Homo sapiens: one gene and its partners. The protein of the gene in region 1 interacts with the protein of each later gene in a pairwise test. Each region holds a gene or a part of one and is shown in the gene's direction. Other genes may lie near its edges.

The links.
Region 2: the proteins of ZNF76 (region 1) and PMPCA interact in binary tests that used the Homo sapiens proteins (3 or more experiments, as listed by UniProt).
Region 3: the proteins of ZNF76 (region 1) and TGS1 interact in binary tests that used the Homo sapiens proteins (3 or more experiments, as listed by UniProt).
Region 4: the proteins of ZNF76 (region 1) and FSD2 interact in binary tests that used the Homo sapiens proteins (3 or more experiments, as listed by UniProt).
Region 5: the proteins of ZNF76 (region 1) and FNDC8 interact in binary tests that used the Homo sapiens proteins (3 or more experiments, as listed by UniProt).
Region 6: the proteins of ZNF76 (region 1) and NRIP2 interact in binary tests that used the Homo sapiens proteins (3 or more experiments, as listed by UniProt).
Region 7: the proteins of ZNF76 (region 1) and LAP3 interact in binary tests that used the Homo sapiens proteins (3 or more experiments, as listed by UniProt).

What each region holds. Positions count from the first base shown.
Region 1 is NC_000006.12:35,283,735-35,287,234, forward strand, and holds part of ZNF76 (zinc finger protein 76), read left to right. Parts: intron 1-2,391; exon of another isoform or gene 2,392-2,393; coding exon 2,394-2,474; intron 2,475-2,587; coding exon 2,588-2,665; intron 2,666-2,696; exon of another isoform or gene 2,697-3,240; coding exon of another isoform or gene 3,241-3,256; intron 3,257-3,500. UniProt on the Homo sapiens protein: May be involved in transcriptional regulation.
Region 2 is NC_000009.12:136,413,658-136,417,157, forward strand, and holds part of PMPCA (mitochondrial-processing peptidase subunit alpha isoform 1 precursor), read left to right. Parts: intron 1-895; coding exon 896-990; exon of another isoform or gene 991-1,018; intron 1,019-2,633; coding exon 2,634-2,734; intron 2,735-3,293; coding exon 3,294-3,500. UniProt on the Homo sapiens protein: Substrate recognition and binding subunit of the essential mitochondrial processing protease (MPP), which cleaves the mitochondrial sequence off newly imported precursors proteins.
Region 3 is NC_000008.11:55,783,446-55,786,945, forward strand, and holds part of TGS1 (trimethylguanosine synthase), read left to right. Parts: intron 1-2,273; coding exon 2,274-2,446; intron 2,447-2,792; coding exon 2,793-3,500. UniProt on the Homo sapiens protein: Catalyzes the 2 serial methylation steps for the conversion of the 7-monomethylguanosine (m(7)G) caps of snRNAs and snoRNAs to a 2,2,7-trimethylguanosine (m(2,2,7)G) cap structure.
Region 4 is NC_000015.10:82,764,570-82,768,069, reverse strand, and holds part of FSD2 (fibronectin type III and SPRY domain-containing protein 2), read left to right. Parts: intron 1-2,038; coding exon 2,039-2,172; intron 2,173-2,771; coding exon 2,772-2,904; intron 2,905-3,500.
Region 5 is NC_000017.11:35,120,421-35,124,414, forward strand, and holds the start of FNDC8 (fibronectin type III domain-containing protein 8), read left to right. Parts: upstream 1-1,194; 5' UTR 1,195-1,273; coding exon 1,274-1,482; intron 1,483-3,994.
Region 6 is NC_000012.12:2,828,536-2,832,035, reverse strand, and holds part of NRIP2 (nuclear receptor-interacting protein 2), read left to right. Parts: exon of another isoform or gene 1-252; intron 253-1,150; exon of another isoform or gene 1,151-1,175; coding exon 1,176-1,328; exon of another isoform or gene 1,329-1,819; intron 1,820-3,500. UniProt on the Homo sapiens protein: Down-regulates transcriptional activation by nuclear receptors such as NR1F2.
Region 7 is NC_000004.12:17,604,698-17,608,197, forward strand, and holds the end of LAP3 (cytosol aminopeptidase), read left to right. Parts: intron 1-2,131; coding exon 2,132-2,241; intron 2,242-2,702; coding exon 2,703-2,892; 3' UTR 2,893-3,273; downstream 3,274-3,500. UniProt on the Homo sapiens protein: Cytosolic metallopeptidase that catalyzes the removal of unsubstituted N-terminal hydrophobic amino acids from various peptides.

The sequences.
Region 1 (3,500 bases):
CAGAACCCCAAGTACTGATGCCCTTGCCAGGACAGATAAATTGTTAAAATGAGGGTAGCCTACTGCTCTGTGGGTGGGAGGGAAGAAAATGGGTTCATCTTCCCCCCATCTCAGCTGCCTTTCCTATTTCTTACCTTTATCTCCACCTTACCTGCCTTTGGTTAGTTGTAGGACTGTTAGTTACTGACCCCAAGAAGACTCAGTTTGGGAGCAAGTTTGGGGATTCCTCTAAAGGGGAGACGTCAGCAGAGACTTGGGCTGGAAGTAACTGTCTTTCCCACCTGAGCGCTCAGTTTCCTAAACCTCAATCTTCTAAGGAAAGGACAAATCACTTGTCATTAACTTTTTTTTTATTTTTTCTTCCTTTTTTTTTTTGAGACGGAGTCTCACCCTGTAGCCCAGGCTGGAGTGCAGTGGCGTGATCTCGGCTCACTGCAACCTTCGCCTCCCGGGTTCAAGCGATTCTCCTGCCTCAGCCTCCCGAGTAGCTGGGACTATAGGCATGTGCCATCACGCCTGGTTAATTTTTTTGTATTTTTAGTAGAGACACGGTTTCATGATGTTGGCTAGACTGGTCTCGAACTCCCGACCTCAGGTTATCCGCCTGCCTCAGCCTCCCAAAGTGCTGGGATTATAAGTGTGAGCCACCACACCCAGCCTTACTTTTTTGTTTTTTCTTTTTGAGACAGGACCTCACTCTGTCACCCAGGCTAGAGTGCAGTGGTACAATCTCAGCTCACTGCAACCTCCGCCTCCCGGGTTCAAGTGATTCTCCTGCCTCAGCCTTCCGAGTAGCTGGGACGACAGGTACCTGCCTCCACACCCAGCTAATTTTTTTGTATTTTTAGTAGAGACAGGGTTTCACCATGTTGGTTAGGCTGGTCTCAAACTCCTGACCTCAGGTGATCTGCTCGCCTTGGCCTCCCAAAGTGCTGGGATTACAGATGTAAGCCACCGTGCCCAGCCTTTTTATTTATTTATTTTTTATTTTTTTCAGACAGGGTCTTACTCTGTCACCCAGGCTGGACTGCAGTGGCATAATCACGGCTTACTGCAACTTCTGCCTCCTGGGCTCAAGCAATCCTCCCACCTCAGCCTCCCGAGTAACTGGGACCACAGGCATGCACTACTACATCCAGTTAATTTTTGTGTTTTTTGTAGAGACAGGGTTTTGTCACATAGCTCAGGCTGGTCTCAAACTCCTGAGCTCAAGCGATCCACCCGCCTTGGCCTCCCAAAGTGTTGGGATTATAGGCATGAGCCACCGAATCTGACCATCATTAACTCTTCAATCTCCCTTTCTTTCCTTTCTCATTTCTCTTCTTCCTTCCCCCTCTGTCAGACTCACTGGACACAAGGAAGGGTCGTCTAGTTCTAATTTCAAGAGCCTTATTAGAAGTGCTTTCCAGTAAGGTAAAGGAAGAGTAATATCTTAGGAAATCTGGAGGCTTGTTAATTTTTATGCTGCTTGTTGTGTTGCCTTAGGTGATCTAATTTTTTACTAGAAAATTGAAATGAAAAATGAGAGGTCAATGAAGGAACATTACTCAACAGTGGCAGTGGAATAAGACCTTCATGGACACATAATAGCATAATAGTTGTGCTCACATAGTTCTCTATTGCTTTACTTTCCATTTCTTCTAAAATGCATATTGGGCTTATAATAAAAGCTAGGATTTATTGAGGGCTGACCATATATACCTGGCACTCTTCCCAGTTTTTTATATTCGTTAACTCATTTAACCCTAACAGCAACCCTATAAGAGACACAGTTTTCAATCCCCATTTTAAGAAAAGGAAACTGAGGCACAGAGAGGTTAGTTAAATAAGCTGTCCAAGGTCACACAGCTGTTAAGAGGTAGAGCTGGAATTCAAACTCTGGAGGCCTGGCCTGGTTCCAGAGTCTATTGTTTTTAACCATTAAGCTATATATCCTGCCTTCACAGGGGCTCCTGGTCTTAGCACACTGTCATAGTGAGGGATGAGGGGATATGTTTTGATTTTGTTAGTTTGAGCTATATCTGAATTTTGACCCACTGGGGCTCATCCAGGTTTAAGGGCCATTAGTTCAAGTCTCAGCAACTTACTATTAGGTTGGAAGTTTCCACTTGGCTGGGCATGGGTAGAATAATAAGTGAAGTTATTCCTCCTGTTAGTAACTGGAAGGGAATCTGTTGGGAGGTGATGGGTTCGGCAAGGCAAGTGTCTTCACCCTTAGTGTCTCAAGGCCCAGGCCCAGGGAGACAGAGCAAGGGAACAAGGAAGATGTTACCCATGCTTAGACCTGCAGGCTCGTGCCTAGAGACTCAAATAAGCCTCAGCTAAAAACAGGCAGGCGTTTCTTAGCCCTCTTCTGGTCCTGGCCCATTTCTCTCTATTTCCACTCTTAACAGGAGAGAAGCTTCTTGAAGGGCAGGTGATCCAGCTCGAGGATGGGACCACCGCATACATTCACCAGGTGACGGTACAGAAAGGTGAGGGCACCCCAACACACCATGCCTTGTCGAGGGAAGCCTGACAGCCCCCACCAAGGGACCCCTCCATGGCACTGAGCTCCAGGGAAAGGCAGGCATTGCTCTCGTTACAGAAGCTCTCTCCTTTGAGGATGGTCAGCCTGTGCAGCTGGAAGATGGCAGCATGGCTTACATACACCGCACACCCAGAGGTAGGGTCACCATCATCACAACTCGGGGAAGGATGGGAGGCAGGACTGGAGGATGGGGTGGCAGGACTGGAGGATGGGATGGCACACAACTGGGGTGTAGACATGGGAGCTGTCATCTCCATGGTACACACATGCTCACCTGGATTAGCAGCCTTGCCCACCTTCCCTGGTGCAGACCACAGGAGCAGCTATGTCTGCAACTGGGAGGTGAGCCTTGGAGATCAGTGACGTGGACTTTGATGGTGGCCTTGGCTCCAGCACAGCCACAAAGTCTTAGGGCTTTAAATAGGACCCGAGGATATCATCCAAGACCAGGAAAAAAAACTAATATTTTAGAATGAAGCTCCTAAGGTGCTGAAGAATAACAATTTATTCCTTCCGCAGGTGGTTTCTTGAGTGACTGTTGCATGCCTGGCGTTGTGTTAGGTGTGCAGTATACAAGACAGAACAAAGTCAGACACAGTCCCCGCTCTCCTAGAGTCTAGAGGGGGAAACAGAAGTGAAACAAGCCATCAGTGATGAACTGATCATTACAAACAGAGATCAGGCTCAGGGAGGGCTTCTCTGAGGTAGTGATGCTTGAGCTGAGAGGTAAAGAATGAGGTAGACTTAGCTGGGGGAAGAGGGATGGCAGGGAGGGTTCAGTACTTCAGGCAGAAGGAATAGCATGTGCAGGCCTAGAGCTGGGGGGAAGAAAGAACAGCACATTCCAGGAACTGCTAGGAGCTAGAGCCCTGGGAGTGAAGGCAGAATGAGCAGGAGGAAACTGGAGAGAGAAAGACAGGGCTGGTGCACTCTGGGTTTGAGTGTCAGGGTGAGGATTTTGGTCTTTATC
Region 2 (3,500 bases), on another chromosome or scaffold:
TTGATTCTCCGACTCTTGCCTCGAATCTCACTCATCCCAGATGAACTCCTTTCTCTGGCCAGGTGGCTGGTGTCCTGACTCAGACCCAGCCCCCCTCGCCCTCAGCTCAGGCTTTTGTTCTTGCCATTCTCCCCATGTGGAGAGCCAAAGTCACTGAGAATGGCTCCTCTTCAGGGTGAAGGTCCAGCCAAGTCCCCTCTTCAGAGGCACTGGTGACTGCGTCCTGCCTCCCAAGCTCCCTCTTCTTCGTGGCTGTTGCGTCTGCTCTGCATGGTCTCCCTTGATCACACTTGATCTCAGAGCACCCCATGATTTCGTGCCTGTCCCATGGGCCAGCTCTGTGCACTTCTGACTGTGCAGTGCCTCATGCCGGGAACAGATGTTACAGTGAGACAAGCTCCATACGAGCCAGCCATTGCTGTCCCCCAAGCCAGCCAAGGCCGGGCATGTTTCCACACTCACCAGTGGGTTCGTTCAGTCAACAGGAGGCTGGGATGAAACACTTCACCTTTTGAGAGAGAGTATAGTTACAAAAATCTGTATCAGAAGTGGCTCCATTTTGACTCAAGCTGTGTGTAGCTGTGAGTCCTGCCTACCAAGCATTCACACTGTAAGACAGGAAAAGAGAAAGGGGAAAAGTGTCTGCTGTTCCCCGATGAAGGGTAGGAGGTGTCCCCTGGCACGCAAAGCCCAAGCGTCCCTGAAATGTCTGCTGGGCCCCAACAAAAGGTAGGTGCCCCTGGCATGCAAAGCCCAAGTGTCCCCTGGCTGTTGAGCAGAGTGTGAGCTCAGGGCCTGGCATTGTCCACCTGGCACGCAAAGCCCGAGCGTCCCCTGGCTGTTAAGCAGAGTGTGAGTTCAGGGCCTGGCATTATGGGCTTGTGTTTTCTTCCAGAGACACCACCATGTATGCTGTGTCTGCTGATAGCAAAGGCTTGGACACGGTGGTTGCCTTACTGGCTGATGTGGTTCTGCAGCCCCGGCTAACAGGTGTGGATCCCAGCCGCTGGCGTTTGAGGTGGGCTTGGACATAGGGAAGACCGGAAAGGTTTGCAGAAGCCCTGTAGCCATGAGGGAGAGCACCATGTAATTGGAGCTTTAGGCCAACACAAAGTGACAGCGAGATCTCATAAGAAATAGCGCTGGGGCTGGGCATGGTGGCTCACACCTGGAATCCCAGGACTTTGGGAGGCTCAGGCAGGCAAATCGCTTGAGCCCAGGAGTTTGAGACCAGCCTGGGCAACATGGTGAAACCCTGTCTCTACAAAAAAGATACAAGAATTAGCTGGCTGTGGTTGCTTACACTTAGAGTCCTAGCTACTCGGGAGGCTGAGGTAGGAAGATCGTTTGAGCCTGGGAGGTTGAGGCTGCAGTGAGCCATGATTGTGCCACTGCCCTCCAGCCTGGGCAACAGAGTGAGGCTTTGTCTCAAAAAAAGAAAGAAAGGAAAAAGAAATAGTGCTAGTAGCCAGGCGTGCTGGCTCACGCCTGTAATCCCGGCATTTAGGGATGTAGAGATGGGAGGATCACTTCAGCCCAGGAGTTCGAGACCAGTCTGAGCAACATAGCAAGACTCTGTTCTCCACAAAAAGGAAAAAAAACCCACTGGTGATTGTAAAAGTCCTTAGTGTTTGAGAGAATGTGTATTTGAGACATCTGTGCCCTCATCCCTGTGGGATGTTTTTAGCGAAATTGGTTCTTTGATTTCGGAAGGGCACCTCGGACCGTCTTTAAACAAGTGGAATGGTGTGTGCCAGAAATTTCCATTTCACTGTTTCCATTACCCTCCTCAGCCTTGCAGATGGCAGGACTTTGAGTCCCTGTCAGGGGTGGACCAGGAGAGGGGAACGTTGGCTTTTCCAGATACCCTAAGGGTGCAGTTTCACAGCAGCTTGCGCTTGGTGTTCAAAGGCTACAGTCCCACGTTAAGATCTTGTGGTCACAACTGATGAAAGGCGCCCTTGACATCTGTCTGTGCCTCTGTTTCTTTTTGGAGATAGAGTCTGTCTCTGTCACCCAGGCTGGAATGCAGTGGCGCGATCTCGGCTCACTGCAACCTCCACCTCCCAGGTTCAAGTGATTCTCCTGCCTCAGCCTCCTGAGTAGCTGGGATTACAGGCGCCCGCCACCGCGCCCAGTTAATTTTTGTATTTTTAGTAGAGATGGGGTTTCACAGTGCTGGCCAGGCTGGTCTTGAACTCCTGACCTCAGGTGATCCACCCACCTCGGCCTCCCAAAGTGCTGGGATTACAGGCGTGAGCCACCGCACCCAGCGTGTGCCTCTGTTTCTAAGCACCTTCATGTCTGGTCTCGTGTCCTCACAGCAGCACTTGGGACAGACAGGTCCAGTGTCTTCGGTGCCTTTCACCAGCAAGGAAGCCAGGGCTTAGCAGGCTCACGTGGCTGCTTCATGGCTGAGGCGGGATGTGAGGCCCAGGTCCCCTAGCTCCTGCTCCCTGTAGCAGTCCCCCTCACTCACACAAGCACCCAGTCTGCCCCTAGATGAAGGCAGAGGTGACTGCCAACAGCCACCAACAGGCGACACTCAGGCCAGCACACAAGCTGTGGGTCACTGCTGTGTTCCTCATCTCTGCCTGTGCAGACTCAGCCCTGGCCTTTGGGTTCTCTTGCAGATGAAGAAGTCGAGATGACGCGGATGGCGGTCCAGTTTGAGCTGGAGGACCTGAACCTGCGGCCTGACCCAGAGCCACTTCTCACCGAGATGATTCATGAAGTAAAATGTCAAACTCGAGAATGCCCCCGCATCTCGAACAGTGGTCCTCGGGACACCAGGGGTGGTGGGGAGGGTGCCTCCGTGATGTTGTCCTTGCAGGTTATGGATATATACAGAACATTTTTTTGTTTTTTGAGATGAGGTTTCTCCACATTGCCTACGCTGGTCTTGCACTCCTGGGCTCAGCTCAGGTGATCCTCCTGCCTCTGCCTCCCAAGTAGCTGGGATTACAGGCGTGAGTCACCGCACTCAGCTTAGAACATTCTTGATTTCTGAGTCTGCTGTTTATACAATGTTCGTATTTTCCAGTTTTTATAGTAACTAGGTCTTTACTACTAAACACAATTAATCTTAGGCTTTTTGTGAATTTGTATTCTGGAGAGGCAGATTTTACTCTTTATAAATACGCACGCAGCTGCTATTGCCAGAGTGCAAGTAAAATATCAGCTTGCGTCGGATTTTCCCAGGGCTGGCTGCAGATGGGCGCTGGTGCTGCTTGTTGGAGGAAGCCTGGTCATGCTGTCTTCAGTCACCTGTGTCTGTGGCTCTTCCCCATTAGGCGGCTTACAGGGAGAACACAGTTGGCCTCCACCGTTTCTGCCCCACAGAAAACGTAGCAAAGATCAACCGAGAGGTGCTGCATTCCTACCTGAGGAACTACTACACTCCCGACCGCATGGTGCTGGCCGGCGTGGGCGTGGAGCACGAGCATCTGGTGGACTGTGCCCGGAAGTACCTCCTGGGGGTCCAGCCGGCCTGGGGGAGC
Region 3 (3,500 bases), on another chromosome or scaffold:
TAATACACTTCATGAGAAGTGTATTATGTAGGTAAATGCTGCAGGATAAAAAAATGCTACGGGATAAAAATTCCAGGTGAACATCTATAGTCTTTTGCCTGAAGTAAAGAGACTGTCATCTTGGTTAACTTTCCCAAGTAACAAATATAATTTATACTGTACATTGAGCCTCACTTTGATGTCTCAAACTTCCCTACTGCATTTGTCCTTCCACATAGACCTTTTGTGTTCCTAGACACAGAGAAAATTACAGCGTGGAGTTAGAAGCCAAAGTCAGCCCAAGTACAGTGTCATAGTTACCTTCGGAAACCCTTTAACTCTCATGGCGATGGAACAAATTACTGTTTCTTCAGTTGATCACTGGATGGAATGTTTGGTTTGTGTTTCAGTGCTATGCTATACAAATAAAGTTCCTATAACACTAGGCTCCTCGAGCATAAGAAAATATGCATACAATGAAAGGAACATAAAACTTAGCTTACTCATTTTCTCCATTTTGCTGTCTCCTGAGCTTTCGTAAGTATATTTGAATGGAGTAGTGAGTGGAATCCCCTTCATTATTTAGAAAGGTATCTTTCTCCCTCTTGTAGCAGAATTTGCACACAAGAGATTTCTCTTTATCAGTCTTCATTTTGGCTATATAAGATTTACTGTTCTGTTGCCTGAGACCATCAAGCTGGAGTGCAGCCCAATGCTAATTGAGTGTGCTAATACATAAAATGATTTTTTGTTATCTCACATTTTAAAGTTAATAGAGCACTTGAATGGCATATGTTCAATTAATGGTATAATTACTATTAGATAACCATATTGGTGTAAAGTAAAACTTACTTTGTTGTAATAAATGGTTTTTCTATAAGAATTAGATTCAGAGAGCTTGAAAAAAATCTTCCAGTTTAGGGGATTTCAAACCTTTCTCTTTTTGAGAGAGAGAGAGGGTCTTGCTCTGTTGTCTGAGTGGTGATCGCTTAAGCATTCCTCTCACCTCAGCCTCCCAAGTAGCAGGAACTACAGGCACCACCACACCAGGGTAGTTTGTTTTTTGGTTTTTGGTTTTGTTTGTAGTGACAGGGTCTTGCTGTGTTGCTCGGGCTTATCTCAAACTCCTGGCCTCAAGCAGCCTCTCAAAATGCTGGGATTAGAGCCATAAGCCACTGTGCCCAACCCCAGGATTTCAAACTTCTAATAGCAGAATCCTTTTGTTAAATCAGCTCTTCCACAGAATCCCGGAACCTAAATCCCAGTTGTATTGAAGTGTCTGTGAGGGGCATGAAGACATGCTTCTCACCCGCTCTTGTTAATACCTCCTAAAATAACTTCACAAATCATGATTTTTAAATTCACTGTCTTAGTTCAGTAATTTTGCAGATAAAGAATGTGAACATATAAGTATTTTCTCCACGTACCAGGGTTACATGGCCTGTTCTGTCTTCCTTCCATCCTCAGTATTTTGCACAGTGCCCAACATAGAGCAGATGCTCAATAAGAGTAAGTTAAATGGGCAGCTGGATGAATAGTGGCAGGCAGAGCCCAATAAGAAATTGATTCTTCCGTTGATTCTTCATTGGCTTTTTTTGTTACTACTCCATATTACTGTCAATTGGTGTTTTTTGTTTTTTGTTTTTTGTTTTTTTTTTGAGACAGAGTCTCGCTCTCTCACCCAGGCTGGGGTGCAGTGGCACAATCTTGGCTCACTGCAACCTCTGTCTCCCAGGTTCAAACAATTATCCTGCCTCAGCCTCCTGAGTAGCTGGAATTACAGCCTGGGCCCAGCTAATTTTTATATTTTTGGTAGAGACGGGTTTTCACCATGTTGGCCAGGCTGGTCTCAAACTCCTGACCTCAAGTGATCCGCCTGCCTCAGCCTCCGAAAGTGCTGGGATTACAGGTGTGAGCCACCGTGCCCAGCATACCGTCAATTGTTTTTTTGTTTGTTTGTTTTCTTTTTTCCTTTAAAAATTGTAACTTTGCAGGCCAGGCAAGGTGGCATGCAACTGTAATCCTAGCTGCTTGTGAGGCTGAGGCAAGAGGACTGACTGAGCCCGGGAGTTCAGAGCTTTTTAGTGCATTATGATCACACCTGCAGATAGCCCTTATACTCCAACCTGGGCAGTGTTGTGAGACCCCCATCTCTAAAAAATAAAAAAAATTGTAACATTTGCATACCTTTATTTTGGGCGGGTCACTCTGGATCTCAGGTTTTTTTAAATGAGAATAAGAAAACCTGCCTCTTAAGTTTTCCTTAAAACTAAGCTAATAAATGGTGTCTATAGGAGACCAGGCGACAGAAGAAGAGGAAGGTGGTTATTCCTGTGGTACTGCAGAATCACATGACAGCAAAGGCATAGGCCTGGATGAAAGTGAACTTGATTCTGAGGCTGAACTCATGAGAAGTATGGGATTGCCACTTCAATTTGGTAGGATAACTGCACATAAGGATTTTGAGGTAAATATTAATTTACTTTTATTATTTCTCTCTCTTCGTTTTCTTTATAAAATATCGCAAGGAATTACTTTTTATCAGATTATATGCATTCACGATCAGCGCTCTCTACCTCTTTTTAAATGTATGTATTTATAAATTAACCAGAACTGAAAGTTGTAATATGTCCCAAGTGTGACTGTTCCTCCTCTTGGAAACTTAGATAGTATATCACTTGTTTGTGGAGCTAAAAGCCCATAGTGGGGCTTTAGAGTATTTTGTTTAATTTAATGTCAAAATAGACTTGGATTCTACTTTCTTTTATAGTTCATAAAGTGCATTTTATATTCAAGTTATTTATCTGATATAGGTATCTATGAATACTAGAAATAAAGTTAAAATAAAAAAGAAAAAACATCAAAAGAAATACTTAGATGAAATTGTGCAAGAATCTTGGAGAAAAGAATATGAAGAAGACGACATTTTGGCTTCAGATGATCCATCTTCAATTGAACAGTATGAGAACACCAGAACATATGAACTTCAAAGCAAAAAAGATACTGAGACAGAAAATCCTCCAGTTGAAAACACATTATCTCCAAAGCTAGAAATTACAGAGAAATGGGAAAAGTATTGGAATGAATATGGAGGAGGACTATTGTGGCAAAGTTGGCAAGAAAAACATCCGGGTCAAGCACTATCTTCTGAACCTTGGAACTTTCCTGATACAAAGGAAGAATGGGAGCAACATTATAGTCAACTTTATTGGTATTATTTGGAACAATTTCAGTATTGGGAAGCTCAGGGTTGGACTTTTGATGCCTCGCAAAGCTGTGATACAGATACTTACACATCTAAAACAGAAGCTGATGACAAGAACGATGAAAAATGCATGAAAGTTGACTTAGTATCTTTTCCATCTTCACCTATTATGGTTGATAATGATAGCTCTGGTACAAGTGATAAGGATCATAGTGAAATACTTGATGGAATTAGTAACATAAAACTGAATTCAGAGGAAGTAACACAGAGCCAATTAGATTCCTGTACAAGTCATGATGGTCATCAACAGCTAAGT
Region 4 (3,500 bases), on another chromosome or scaffold:
ACTCAGTGACCACAAGGGCTCGCAGAACCTATGAGTTTACAGCAGCCTATGATGGAGGAAGCATAGGTTTACCTCTGGTTTACAGAAGTTTGTGAAAGGGGATGAACCACCCAGGCAGGCCAGCACCAGCCACCAGGACCAGGGGCTCCCCTGCTGTGGAACACAGGGGTGCACTGACCTGGAGCTGGAGAAATGAAGAGGTGTTGGTGTCAATTGTTAGGGAAGCAGATTCTTCTATGCTAAATGCCAGGCTTGAAACGTGGCCATATGCCACCCATCCATCTGTTCCAGGTGGAATCTGTGTGTCCATGGCCACACAGAGGCTGACTTTGGTAATCCACTCTGGAGATACTCAGGAGTGGGGCAGTGTGTCCAGTGGTTCTGGCCATCCTAATGGTTCAGGTTTCCTTTGCAATTTATGCTGATACTTTAGGAGCACTTGACACCTGGGACCAACTCACAATGATGAGGTCATCAGAGGGCTGGTCAGTAACCTGAGAGATGACCTGAGAGCTGGTGCATATTCTTCCAGTACAAATCCAATCATGGCGACCCATTGCTGAAGAAAAGGCAAAACTCCTTCACAGGCTCTGGCCCCTTCCTGCCTCTCCAGCTCCTCCCACACCAGCTCCCCTCCCTCTCAAGATCCCACCACATTGGTCATGTTTCAGTTCCTCCTACTTTTCATGCTCCTTCCTGCCACAGGGCCTTGGCACATGCTTCTCCTATGTAGGAGACTCCTCTGTCCCTTTTTCATCCAGTTACCTCCTCAGCATTCTTCAGAGCTCTGCTCAAAAGCCATCCTGCCCCCACCATTATACACTACAGCACACTATCAACTTGTCTTGGTTACCATCTTACATTCCTTCCAGTGATTGCCTGAAGAATGCTGCTCTTCCCATCTAGACTGTAAGCTCTATGAGGGCAGGAACTACATTTGTTTTTTCTGAGGGCCTCCCTATACAGTGCCTGGAACCTAAGGAGTTTAGTTAACATTTATTGAATGCATAAGTAAAAGTGCCCCTCTGGCCCAGAGCTGCAGCCTGAAGATAACCTGGACAACTTGGCCTCATCTGGGTGAGGGTGTTGTATTGGTAAATGGGCATCATCCTAAAGACTTCTCTTGCCCACTGGACTGACATGGGGTTGGCAACCGCAGCAATATAGACAGTGGCAATTATGAGCTTATATTTCTGTATAGTACAATTTAAATACATTGGATTATTTCCAATAGGCAGCTGTTAGGGGGTTAACAGCAGTTAACACTTTCAGCTCTAGTCAGAATTGTTTGCTCATAAACATAAATCAAGGACCTTTTTTTTTTTTTTTTTGAGACAGTCTCACTCTGTCGCCCAGGAGTGCAGTGGCGTGATGATCTCGGTTCACTGCAACCTCCAACTCCCAGGTTCAAGCAATTCTCCTGCCTCAGCCTCCTGAGTAGCTGGAATTACAGGCACCTGCCACCACACTCGGTTAATTTTTGCATTTTTAGTAGAGACGGGGTTTCACCATGTTGGCTAGGCTGATCTCGAACTCCTGACCTCAAGTGACCCACCCGCCTCAGCCTCCCAAAGTGCTGGAATTACAGGCATGAGCCATTGCACCTGGCTGAATTGACGGCCTTCTATGGGCCCAGTACTGTACTAAGAATAGCGGTACTCAGCCCCTGACCTCAGAGACATTATGATCCTAACAGACGGACAGAGACACACTGGATTCTACTGCATGCACACTCCATGATGCAGTGTTAACCATATGCCAAGCACAGTGCTGGGTGCCTGGGAAACCAGAATGAGGGACTTGGAGAGGAGACAGCCACAAACACAAGAAGTAGCAATGAAGTGAGAAAAGCAGACCAGAGACTGTGGGAGGGAATGCAGAGGGGGAGCCAGCACTCCTGGCTATGCTGCTGTTAAATGTGGGTCAGAGGACAGGAGCGCAAGAGTGAGTTAAACCTTCCAGCTTTGAAAGGGATGCCTGGTGCTTGGGCCTGGGTGTCCTAGCCCCATTCTGACTGCAGCTCTGCTTCCTTGTACAGGTCTGTTGTGGGCATCCCGACCTGCGAGTCCGTGGTGCAGCTGCAGCCGGGGCGGAGCTACATTATCTATGTGCGAGCCCTCAATATGGGGGGCCCCAGCGTGAGGAGCGAGCCAGCTACAGTCCACACCATAGGTCTGTGCCCCAGCCCACAAAGTCTCTGGGACCCAAAGTGGCCACTCTGTGGCAGACCCAGTGCTGCTATGACTTCACTGGGAAATTGATGAATATGCACAGATGTGGACACGTGGCAAGTCAGGCCAGAAGGAGTTCAGGGGTGTCCCATACTGCCCTAATTGCAAGTCAAATGGATCATTAAGAAGTCCTTCAATTCCTATTTCCCTTGGCAAATAGGTTAGAAATTCTTATCCATACACAGGCATTACAGCTAGAGGTAAAGAGCACAGCCTCTGGAATCAGAGGGGCTTGGGGTTCAAGTTTAAGTTCTATCATTTGCCAGCTGATTTCTTAACCACCTTGTGCCTCTGTTTCCTCATCTACAAAATGGAAATAGTGACACCTGTTTCTAAGGGTCGTCGTGAGGATTGAAGGGGATACTAGGCACACAAGACTGCCCGATGAGTGTCAATTGCCATCCTTGTTAACTGGACGCCTATTACTAGGCCAGGTCCAGGCTTAGGTGTATCCCACACGAAGCTAAACCGGTGACCACCGCCCACATGGAGAAAGCAAGTGATTGGCTGCGGGTCTTCTGTGTGTTCCTCCTCCCACAGGAAGCTACTTTCGCCTAAACAAGGACACTTGCCATCCCTGGCTGACCATTTCTGAAGACGGACTTACGGCTGTACGAAGTGAAAGGAGAACCCCCGCCAGGGAGCTGTCACCCAGCGACACTCACTTCACCAGGTACTTTGTCAACCGCTCACAAGGGCGTTCTGTGAACTTCCCGAAGGTGCACTGTTATTCAGGTCAAATCCGAATATGGCACGGAGGCAGCCTCGAGGGAAAAGGAATCCTACAAATGAGTGAGGAGGGAGGAGCCTAATGGGGAGGGGACCCAGAGGAGTGTGGGCAAGAGGGGTCAGGCAGGTGCAGGCAGAAGAGCCCCCTGGGACGGTGAGGTCAGGAGAGGGCGCGGTCCCCTGGGAGGGCATGGTCCCTGGGTCCTAGGCTGCCAGAGCTGGAGCAGCCAGAGGTCATGAGGGTGGGACAGGAATTACTAGTGGAGGGTGTCCAAGTTCTTGGCGTTCTGAACAAAGAATTGGACAAAATGCACAAACAAAGCAAGGAAAGAGGCCAGGCACGGTGGCTCATGCCTGTAATCACAGCACTTTGGGAAGCCGAGGCAGGCAGATCACCTGAGGTCAGGAGTTTGAGACCAGCTTGGTCAACATGCTGAAACCCCATCTCTACTAAAAATATAAAAATTAGCCGGGCCTGTTGCGGGTGCCTGTAATCCCAGCTACTCGGGAGGCTGAGGCAGAAGAATTGCTTGAACCCGC
Region 5 (3,994 bases), on another chromosome or scaffold:
TGCCACCTTGCCCAGCTAATTTTTGTATTTTTTGTAGAGGTTTCGCCTCTACAAAATGGGGTTACACCATGTTGCCCACACAGGTCTCGAACTACTGGGCTCAAACAATCCTCCTGCCTTGGTCTCCCGAAGTGCGGGGATTACAGGTGTGAGCCACCGTGCCCGGCCTCTATTTTTTATTTTATTTTTTATTTTTTTTAAGGGCAAGAAACCTTGGTTATATAGAACACACACAAAAAGATATGATTTGGTATTTTTAAATGTCCTTTGCTTTGCCTCATCCATAGGAAGAAATAAAACTTTACATGGTTATCTCATCACAAATCTGTGAGGGAGGCGCTATTTTTTATCCCTGTTTCACCAATGAAGAAACTGAGGTTCAGTGAGGTTAAATCACTTGCCAAAGGTCACCCAGCTAGGCGGCACAGGGCTGGACTTCACATCCACATCTGACTCTGCAAAGCCAGTGCTTTCTAACAGCCCCCCTCCCCACCCCTGAAGCTGTGTACATGTTTTCCTACTGTAAGGTGGTTTCTCTGAGAGCAGAGATCATGTGTGGCCCATCTCTGTATCCCACTGCAACTGCCACCATTGTCACTCCACACAGGAAAGTACTTGGGAGTGTGGGTGTGGCACATTTAGAATTCTAGCAGTGAAGTCTGATCATATGTGAGCCATGAACCCCTATGAACCATGTGGGCTTTCCCTTTCACTAACCGACTGGGCACAGTGGAGTCTGCAGCCTATGGTTTCAGGATAGAGAGCCTTAGCTTCTACGGACAAAGTTTCCCTCCCCAGCAGACACTTTCCAATACTGCCTATCTCTCAGGGCCACACCACCATCCTCTACATCCCACGCCCATCTCTCACCATCCTTATTCTCCTTCCCAGGGCAGTGCGGAAGGACACAGGTGTCAGGCATTTTGAGATCTTCAGAGAAGGGCAGGGCTGCCATCACCATGGAGTATTAGAGCTGGAAGGGGCCCAAGGGCTCATGCAGTCTGTTCCTTGGTTTTACCCCTCTCATGATGCTGCTTCACAGTCACACTGGCCCTTGGTCTGGCCAGCCACATAGCTAGCCTGGCAGCAGTAGCCTCAAATCAAGGGGGGAGGCTGGCCTGTAATTGTTACACTCTGTGATGATTATGAAGTCAGCTCATTGCACCTGCAGACTGTCCAAACTAAAGGTGGGCCACTGCCCCCACAGTTTCTCTCTGCTTCTGGTCAGCTGGGTTGTCCTGCATGGTGACGGGTGTCATCCCGAACAAATCAGATGGCATCAGAGGCACTCCATCAAGTGGGAGATGGGGAGGAGGCTGTACTGAAGAAAGAAAACTTCAACATGATGAATGCCCTTGACCAACTGCCAAAACCCTTTTCAAACCCCAAGTCTATGAACCGGACCGTCACTACCAAAGGACTCCCACTAGCCTCAAAGGGCAATTTGGTCAACTTCTTGGAGGATGATACCATCAACCTACTGTAAGTCACAAATCTGGTCCCTCCCTCCCTCCCTCCCTCCCTCCCTTCCTTCCTCCCTTCCTTCCTCCCTTCCTTCCTTCCTTCCTTTTTTTTTTTTTTTTTGACAGGATCTTGCTTTGTCACCCAGGCTGGAGTGCAGTGGTGCAATCTCGGCTCACTGCAGCCTTGAATTCTTGAGCTCAAGTGATCTTCCCACCTCCACCTCCCAAGTAGCTGGGACTATTGACGCGCCACCACCACACCTGGCTAATTTTCATATATATATATATATATATATATATATATATATATATATATATATATATAAATTTTTTTTTTTGGTAGAAACGGGGTTTCACCGTGTTGCCCAGGCTGGTCTTGAACTTCCGGGCTCAAGCGATCCTCCCGCCTCAGCCTCCCACAGTGTTGGGATTATAGGCTTGAGCCACCATGCCTATAGTTTCTAAGAAAGGCTGGAGCCGAGGGCTGGGCAGAGAGACAAAGAATCTATACTTCCCTGACTTGTCACAACCCAGTTCCTTGACTCCCAGAGAAGAGCGTGTGGGCAGGTTGGATCTATTTATGTATTCCTGAGCCCCAAATCACTTCTTGGAGGCATATGGAGCTCCCACTCCAGGAGGCCTTCTTGGATTAGTCAGTTTGTTGACAGTGCTCCTTATCCTGCCTTGACTGGCTGTGGTCCTCACCATCACCAAATCCCTGACACACCCATGGCTCCTCTTCCTCAACCCTCTCTCTTTGGTACCTTCATCTACCTGACTGCTCCCCAGTAGCCTGCCTTCCTTCGGACTGGGTTTTGCTGTTCCTCCTCACCAAGTCTGGTTTTCCTCTACTTCATTCCACAAAACTCTTTGAGCACCTGCAAGGTGTCTGTCCCAGTGTTTAAGTTCTGGGAACGCAGAGCTGGAAAGCACAGTCCCTGCCTTTAAGGAGCTCCCAGTCTGGCATGTGGAGGTCAGGGGTGAAAGGATGGGGATCATGCAATAACCAGAATGATATAGCATGGTCTGGTAAGTGCCAGGACAGGATGCCTTGAGGGACCAGAGGGGCTTAGTATAGCTTGAGACTGGGTGCAGTTGAAGGAGGCTTCTTGGAGGAAGTGATATTTGAGCTGAGTCTCCAAGGAAGGAAAGGAGTTAGCCAGTGAAGGGGTGGTGGTACAGGGTGATGTGGGCTGAGGGAATTACTTGCAGGTCACCCACCACATGGGTGAATGACCTGTGCAGTCACAAATAGCCCTGCACTTACAAGGGGCCTGTGCTTAGTTTAATGCTTTTCTGTTACTATCTTCAAATTCAGAATTTTTGAATAAGGGGCTCAGGGTACTTCAATTTGCACTGGGCTCCACAGACTACATAGCTGGTCTTGAGTATGTGAGAGGGATGTGGTGTCCATTCCCCAAAGTGCCCGTAAGCAAGCAGGTATGGCTAAAGTGATGGATGCTCGTAGGAAACTTCATGGTATACTGGGAATCTTGGACTAGAAGCCCAAACTCAGATCCAAGTTCTGCCACTTAGAGATTTATGGTCTTAGACAACTTAATTAAGATCGGAGGCCAGATGGGGTAGCCCACGCCTGTAATCCCAGCACTTTGAGAGGCTGAGGCGGATGCATCACTTGAAGTCAGGAGTTTGAGACCAGCCTGGCCAACATGGTGAAACCTCGTCTCTACTAAAAATACAAAAATTAGCTGGATGTGGTGGCACGCACCTGTTGTCCCAGCTACTCAAGAGGCTGAGGCGGAAGAATCCTTTGAACCTGGGAGGTGGAGGTCGCAGTGAGCCAAGATTGTGCCACTGCACTCCAGCCAGGGGTCTGGGAGACAGAGCAAGGCTCCATAAAAAAAACAAAACAAAACAAAAAAAAAAACAGATCAGGGACCCTCAGCCCCTTGTTTGCCAAATGGGGCTAACATCCATCCAGCAGAGCTGTTGTGAACATCAGGAGGAGGAGATGTTCAGCATGTAGCCAGTGCCTAGCGGCCTTCTGTGCTTGCTTCAGTACCAGCATTTGCAGTAAGTGAATCTGAAATATTAATTCATTAGGACAATCTAAAGCACATATGACATTAATACCCAGACTCTTCAGTCTACAAAAGACCTTGGTGGGGGAATCATTTATTCCAAATGTCCACCAAGCGCTAGCATAGGGGATCTGGGCTAATCAGGATTTCTCAGGAGGAGGCTGATGAGGCTGGAACCTGGGGAGGAAAAACTTGGCCCGTTCATCAACCAAGACCTGGGAGGCTGGATGGGAGTAAGGGATCCACAAACTGTGGATTGTGACCTATTAATGGGTCAAGAAGTCCTTCTAGTTGGTGAAGACCACTATGATAAAAATAAACTGGCTGGGTGCAGTGGCTCACGCCTGTAATCCTAGCACTTTGGAAGGCCAAGGCGGGCAGACCACGAGGTCAAGAGATCGAGACCATCCTGGCCAACATGGTGAAACCCCTTCTCTACTAAAAATACAAAAATTAGCTGAACATGGTGGCCGCACCTGTAGTCCCAGC
Region 6 (3,500 bases), on another chromosome or scaffold:
TCCAGGCTGAAGCTCCAAGCAGATGTATTTGAAAGGTAACAGGTCTGGAGACAGGTTATGAACTTAAGAAGGTGTTCCAAGGATCCGAGAGAGCTGTGGGGAGTCTGGAACACAGGCAGTAACAGAAAGGAAGGATGGAGGCCAGGTACTGTGGCATATGCTTTTGGTCCCAGCTGCTCAGGAGGCTGAGGCTAGAGAATGCCTTGAGCCAAGGAATTAGAGTCCAGTCTGGGCAGCATAGCAAGATCCCATCTTGAAAGAAAAGAAAAAGAAAGAAAAGAAAGAAGAGAGAGAAGGAAAGGAGGGACAGATTGATTCTACACAGGAGGCAAAACTTATAGAATTTGGGAAGTGACTGGATGGAATGGGAGTGGTTGTAGATGAGGGACAGGTCAAAGATGACTCCCAGCATCCTAGTTCTTAAGAGTTTTTTTTGTTTGGTTTTTTTTTTTGAGACAGAGTCTTGCTCTGTCAACCAGACTGGAGTGCAGTGGTGTGATCTTGGCTCATTGCAACCTCTGCCTTCTAGGTTCAGGTGACTATCACACTTCAGCCTCCCGAGTAGCTGGGACTACAGGCACATGCCAATACATCTAGCTAATTTTTGTATTTTTAGTAGAAATAGGGTTTCACCATGTTGGCCAGGCTGGTCTCGAACTCCTGACCTCAAGTGATCCACCCACCTCGGCCTCCCAAAGTGCTGGGAGTACAGATGTGAGCCACCACGCCTGGCCTAGTTCTTGAGTTTCTTACTGTTTTTCATCATACCATCAACCCTGGGATCTGAAGCCCATTGAAGGATGAGGTCAGAGGGGAAGAAAAAAAAAACCCTCCTAGTTAAAAAAAAATGTAAGTTTGAGACAAAACTTCCCCCAAGCATACTAATTCCTGAAATGTCCCTTCGGCTACTAAGTCAGTTTAACAGAGAATGGACCATTCTCCTCTTCCCATTTCTTCACTGCTGAGCAATCTATGGGTGTCCAAGGAAAACGGCATGATTTGATACTGGGGCTTACTCTGCTCTCATTATCTGGGACCCTAGGGTAAACTCCTAGGGTAAGGCTCAGGGCTGGGGGGGTGGGGGGAGCATCCTGGGGTATCTAAGTGGGGTAACTGAGCAGCCTGGATGCCTGGGTTTAGAACTGCCTACCTTCATTGTTTTGTGATGGAGCCAGCAGCCGCGCAGTGTGATCCAAAGACGCCTGGTGGAGGGAAACCCGAATTGGCTTCAGGGGGAGCCTCCCCGGATGCAGGACCTGATTCATGGCCAGGAGAGCAGGAGGAAGACCAGCAGGACAGAGATTCCAGCTCTTCTGGTCAACTGCAAGGTGAGAGGCCTCCCAGGGACACACTTTCATTAACAACCCTGCCTGCACTCACTTCACCTGCTCTCCTTTCTGCTCTGCCCTGATGGGAGAGGGAGGGAGGGAGAAAGGGCACCTCTCTCCCTAGCCTGGACCTAACCAGGATCCTCTACCTCCTTCCTCCCTGCCCCAAGCCATGTCTCCTCGGTGCAACTCCATCTGTCACCACCATTACTCTGCCCCCCTTCCTTGGTCAAAATACAATACTTAAATTAAGTAAGTACTCCTCAGTGTGCTCTACACAGACAAATGGTGTGTGTGCATGGATAACGTAATTCTGGAAAAAACTCATGTGTTCTAAGGCATTGGCCCTGTAATCTCTGGAACCACTTAACCACTCAGTCACTATTGAACATTCGCAATAAATTCCCACTGGTCCTCGGCCACCGTCTTTGCTCTGTGCTTCTTCTATGTGGATTGCTCTTCTTGCTCTCCAATCATTCTGGGTCCGCATTCTGCAAGCAAAAGCCCAGCTCAGATGTTACCTCCTCCTTGAAACCTTTTCTGATTTCCCCAGTAGGAAACAGCCTTTCCTCCCTCCCAACCTCTAAGGCATGTTACTCACGTCCTTTTTTTAAAAAAAAAAATTTTTTTTGAGACAGAGTCTCGCTCTGTCACCCAGGCTGGAGTGCAGTGGCATGATCTTGTGTCACTGCAGCCTCTGCCTCCTGGGTTCAAGCGATTCTCCTGCCTCAGCCTCCTAAGTAGCTGGGACTATAGGCCCACACTACCACACTTGGCTAATTTTGTATTTTTAGTAGAGATGGGGTTTCTCCAGGTTGGTCAGGCTGGTCTCAAACTCCTGACCTCAGGTGATCCATCCACCTCGGCCTCCCAAAGTGCTGGGATTACAGGCGTGAGCCACCGCACCCCTCGACTTTTCCGGTCCTTTTGTTTATTTTTTAGAGACAGATTCTTACTCTGTCACCCAGGCTGGAGTGTAGTGGCATGATCAGAGCTCATTGCAGCCTCAACCTCCTGGACTCAAGCGATCCTCCCACCTCAGTCTTCTGAGTAGCTAAAATTACAAGTGTGCGCCACCACAGCTGGCTAATTCTTTTTTTGTATTTTTAGACTACCACGTTGGTCAGGCTGGTCCTGAACTCCTGGCCTCAAGCGATCCTTCCACCTTGGCCTCCCAAAGTGCTTGGATTATAGATAGGTGTGAGCCACAGGGCCAGGGCATTCACATCCTTTTATAGACCATAAAACTTTCTGCCATATAGTAGAGTTATATTATACTTCCTTTAGACTCCTGAAGAATAGCATTCATTGATATACCTTCCGGTAACATATCTTATAGTAAATACTCAATGAATGTTTGGAATGAGAAAACGATGTGTGTGTATATCCAAGCGTATATCAAAATGTCTATGTCCCAAAGTAGGTGAAGTTGTCTTCCTTTGTTTCCAATAGCGAACTTCTTGGTTACTCATATCTGAGTTTCCTAACAGGGATTCCAGTCTTCTCATCCTTCCTCTATTCCTAACCTGGAGTTTTCGAACCAGGAGGCCATCAAACTCCCAAGGATTCCTCTAAACAAACAAATCACCGTTTCTCCATTTCTGGCAGATCTTCCCCAAACTTATGAACCCATCACATATAACCACTTTTTTTTTTTCCATTTTATTTTTTGTAGAGACAGAGTCTTGCTATGTTGCCTAGGCTGGTCTTGAACTCCTGGCTTCAAGTGATCCTCTTGCCTCCAAAGTGCTAGAACTACAAGCATGAGCCACCGCACCTGGTCCACTTCCTTTTTTGATTTATTTATCTGGGAGTTCTGCCCCTATTGTATGAGTCTCATAAAAACCAGTTTTTTTGTTTGTTTTGAGACAGAGTTTTGCTCTTGTTGCCCAGGCTGGAGTGTAATGGCGTGATCTTGGCTCACCACAACCTCCGCCTCTCGGGTTCAAGCGATTCTCCTGCCTCAGCCTCCCGAGTAGCTGGGATTACAGGCATGCGCCACCACACCCAGCTAATTTTGTATTTTTAGTAGAGACAGGGTTTCTACTAAACCCTGGTCAGGCTGGTCTTGAACTCCCGACCTCAGGTGATCCACCCGCCTCGGCCTTCCAAAGTGCTGGGATTACAGGCGTGAGCTACCGCGCCTGGCCCCGATAAAAGCCAGTTTTAAAG
Region 7 (3,500 bases), on another chromosome or scaffold:
AGAGATGGTGAATAAATTATTCTAGCCTTAGAAGGATAGACTTCTTCAACCCTGTGTTAAAGTGATTTTTATGCCGCAGGTTTGCCTTTGAATTGAAAATGAACCACAGCAATAGATTGAGTTCAGTGGCATTGGGTTTTCCACAAATGCTCCTAAAGGAGGGGATGATGCCCCCTGCTCCCCTCCGGTAGCCTCAGCGTCCTGTGAAAATATCTCACGAACACTGTGGTCATAGTTTTAGAATCCCTGAGGTAGAAATGGTTTTGAAGATGGCTTTGTGGAGCAGCGTTTGTGACTGCGTGTCGTGAGTCATATAAGGGAGTTCACCCTGCATCGATGAGGATGTCTTCAGACCGCTGTGCTCTGTGCCTCCCTCCATGCCCTTCACAGCCAGCCTCTTCCCAGCAGTCACCCTCACTTCCACACACACACACACACACACACACACACACCCTCACTTACTGCCATTGGTTTTCGAATGTCCACACCACTGTTAGCCTAACTCAGCCTGTCTTGAGGCAGCAGGTGACTCTGTGGCCTCCTGACACCTGGTTCAGCTTCTGTGATAATCCTTTCTTGGGCTGCCTCCTGTGATTCTCCTGCTCCTGTCTCCTGACGTGTTTGTTCCCTTTGGCCGCCCTTTGGCTGGTGTTCAATTCAAGGCCATAGGCTCTTCCTACTCTACACATTCCTCACATGGAAGCTCCAGCCAACACATGTTGCCTGATGGCTCCCATCTCTCTCCCGAGTCCCAGCCTCTGTGTACCCATGTGGCTGCTAGACAGCTCCAGCTGGCTGCTTACTCATTCATTCAACTAGTAATTAATGGGAGCTTACTCTGTGCCAGTGGGAGGGGAGACAAACATAAAATGTCCCCAAATATAATCCTGAGGGTGGTTTAAGGTCTAAACTTATTTTCACTCTAAACTGCTTCTCCTTCATATATGTCATCATTCACGAAGCCCAATTTTCCCAGTTCTGCAATACTCAGCCCCATCATCTTCTTCCAGGCCGGGCCAGGAACCTCTCCTCTGGCCTCCCACATAACCGTTATCCCTCTCTTTCATGGCACCCACAATATTGTTGTTTTGACTTTTAAAAAACATTTAAGCTTTAAAAAAAAAATCTCAGTTATATGTGCATAAATCAACAATCAGCAGCCCACAGTCTGTTTTCCAGAAGGCAGCCACTTTCAACCCTTGGCTGATTCATCTGGTATTTACTTATGTCTTAAAATAACAGCTTATATTGCTGCTTCTTGATTTTTCACTTTTAGGTCTTTGATTTTTTACCAGTGAGTTAAATAATCTGTTTATGTATCTGTTTCTCCTACTAGCCTGTAGGCCCTTGGGTGGCTCAGATGGTAGTATTTCAGCACACCTGGTGGTGCTCAGTAGTTCAGTAAACGATGAATGAGTGAGTGGGTAAGTGATGAATGAATGAATGTGGTCATCCTGTCTCAGGATTTCAGTGATACAGGTCCAGTCGTGTGTTTCTGTCACATAGAAGTGACCCGCCACATAAGAACTCTTTCACCCTCATCAACCCACAAAGCCTGTAATTGTAGTTTGATGATTTTAGCAAAATGCCCTACAGATTTGTGAAATTGCTTCACAGCATTCCCGGTTTCTTTTTATTTTTTATTTATTTATTTATTTTTGAGACGGAGCCTCGCTCTGTCGCCAGGCTGGAGTGCCGTGGCACTCCGTTGGCTCCCTGCAACCTCCCCGTCCTGGGTTCAAGCAATTCTCCTGCCTCAGCCTCCGGAGTAGCTGGGACTACAGGCGCGCACCACCACGCCCAGCTAATTTTTTGCATTTTTAGTAGAGACAGCGTTTCACCATGTTGGCCAGGATGGTCTCGATTTCTTGACCTCGTGATCCACCCGCCTCGGCCTCCCAAAGTGCTGGGATTATAGGCGTGAGCCACTGTCCCCAGCCTCCTGGTTTCTTTTATAGTTCTAAAATAAATCTTTTAATGAGTGGACACAATTCTGAAACCTATTTTCTAGTTTCATGTTTTAGAGTAACAGGTTAGAACAACTCTTCCTTCATGCATTGAGCATGTTAATGCCATGAATTTCCCACAACCTGCCTCATCCACTCTTCCACCTGTCATACCTGTTCTCTAGGCCAGCATTGAAACAGGGGACCGTGTCTGGAGGATGCCTCTCTTCGAACATTATACAAGACAGGTTGTAGATTGCCAGCTTGCTGATGTTAACAACATTGGAAAATACAGGTATGTAAGCTAAGCTAAATGTACATTTATACAATCATCCTTGATTGCCAAAATAGCTATTTTCAATTTTATCCCCTTATATAAAAGGTTTAACTATTTAATTTCCTTTTGGTGTAGTGCTTGTAAGATTTTTAATGTCTTGAATTTTCAAGTATTTCTTCAACCAGATTTCAAAATTTGCATATTTCTAATCTAATGGTAATTTTCAATAAATGGTAAGGGAAAGAGATGGAAAATATGGGAATTCATTACCATAGCAAAAAGGAATATAGAATTTATCCTTTACTGCTTAAAGCAATATCTGAAAATAAATATTCTGAAACTGATATGTGGGTTAGCATCTTAATAGGTCTTACAAGCTTGACTCTTGTTCTTTGGTTATAGAATGTACTTAGCAAAAATGTGGGATCTCAGTGCACATTTACATGGGGTTGTAAAGTGCTTTTTGTCTTTCTCTTCAGATCTGCAGGAGCATGTACAGCTGCAGCATTCCTGAAAGAATTCGTAACTCATCCTAAGTGGGCACATTTAGACATAGCAGGCGTGATGACCAACAAAGATGAAGTTCCCTATCTACGGAAAGGCATGACTGGGAGGCCCACAAGGACTCTCATTGAGTTCTTACTTCGTTTCAGTCAAGACAATGCTTAGTTCAGATACTCAAAAATGTCTTCACTCTGTCTTAAATTGGACAGTTGAACTTAAAAGGTTTTTGAATAAATGGATGAAAATCTTTTAACGGAGACAAAGGATGGTATTTAAAAATGTAGAACACAATGAAATTTGTATGCCTTGATTTTTTTTTCATTTCACACAAAGATTTATAAAGGTAAAGTTAATATCTTACTTGATAAGGATTTTTAAGATACTCTATAAATGATTAAAATTTTTAGAACTTCCTAATCACTTTTCAGAGTATATGTTTTTCATTGAGAAGCAAAATTGTAACTCAGATTTGTGATGCTAGGAACATGAGCAAACTGAAAATTACTATGCACTTGTCAGAAACAATAAATGCAACTTGTTGTGCTCTCTGGTGTGGCTCTGATATTTACTTACATATTGCTACAAACCCAGTAACTTATTACTAGAATATCATTCGTCTCTGTAGCCATGTTGTATGAACTATGTAATTAAATTGGGGCACAGTGGCTTATGTATTTTCTCAATGTTCCTCATCACTTAAAGGTACTCAGGGATTGAGCTCATCAGTTTGGGTAATAGTGGCTTGGCCCATGATTTCCAAAATGAATCAGTCA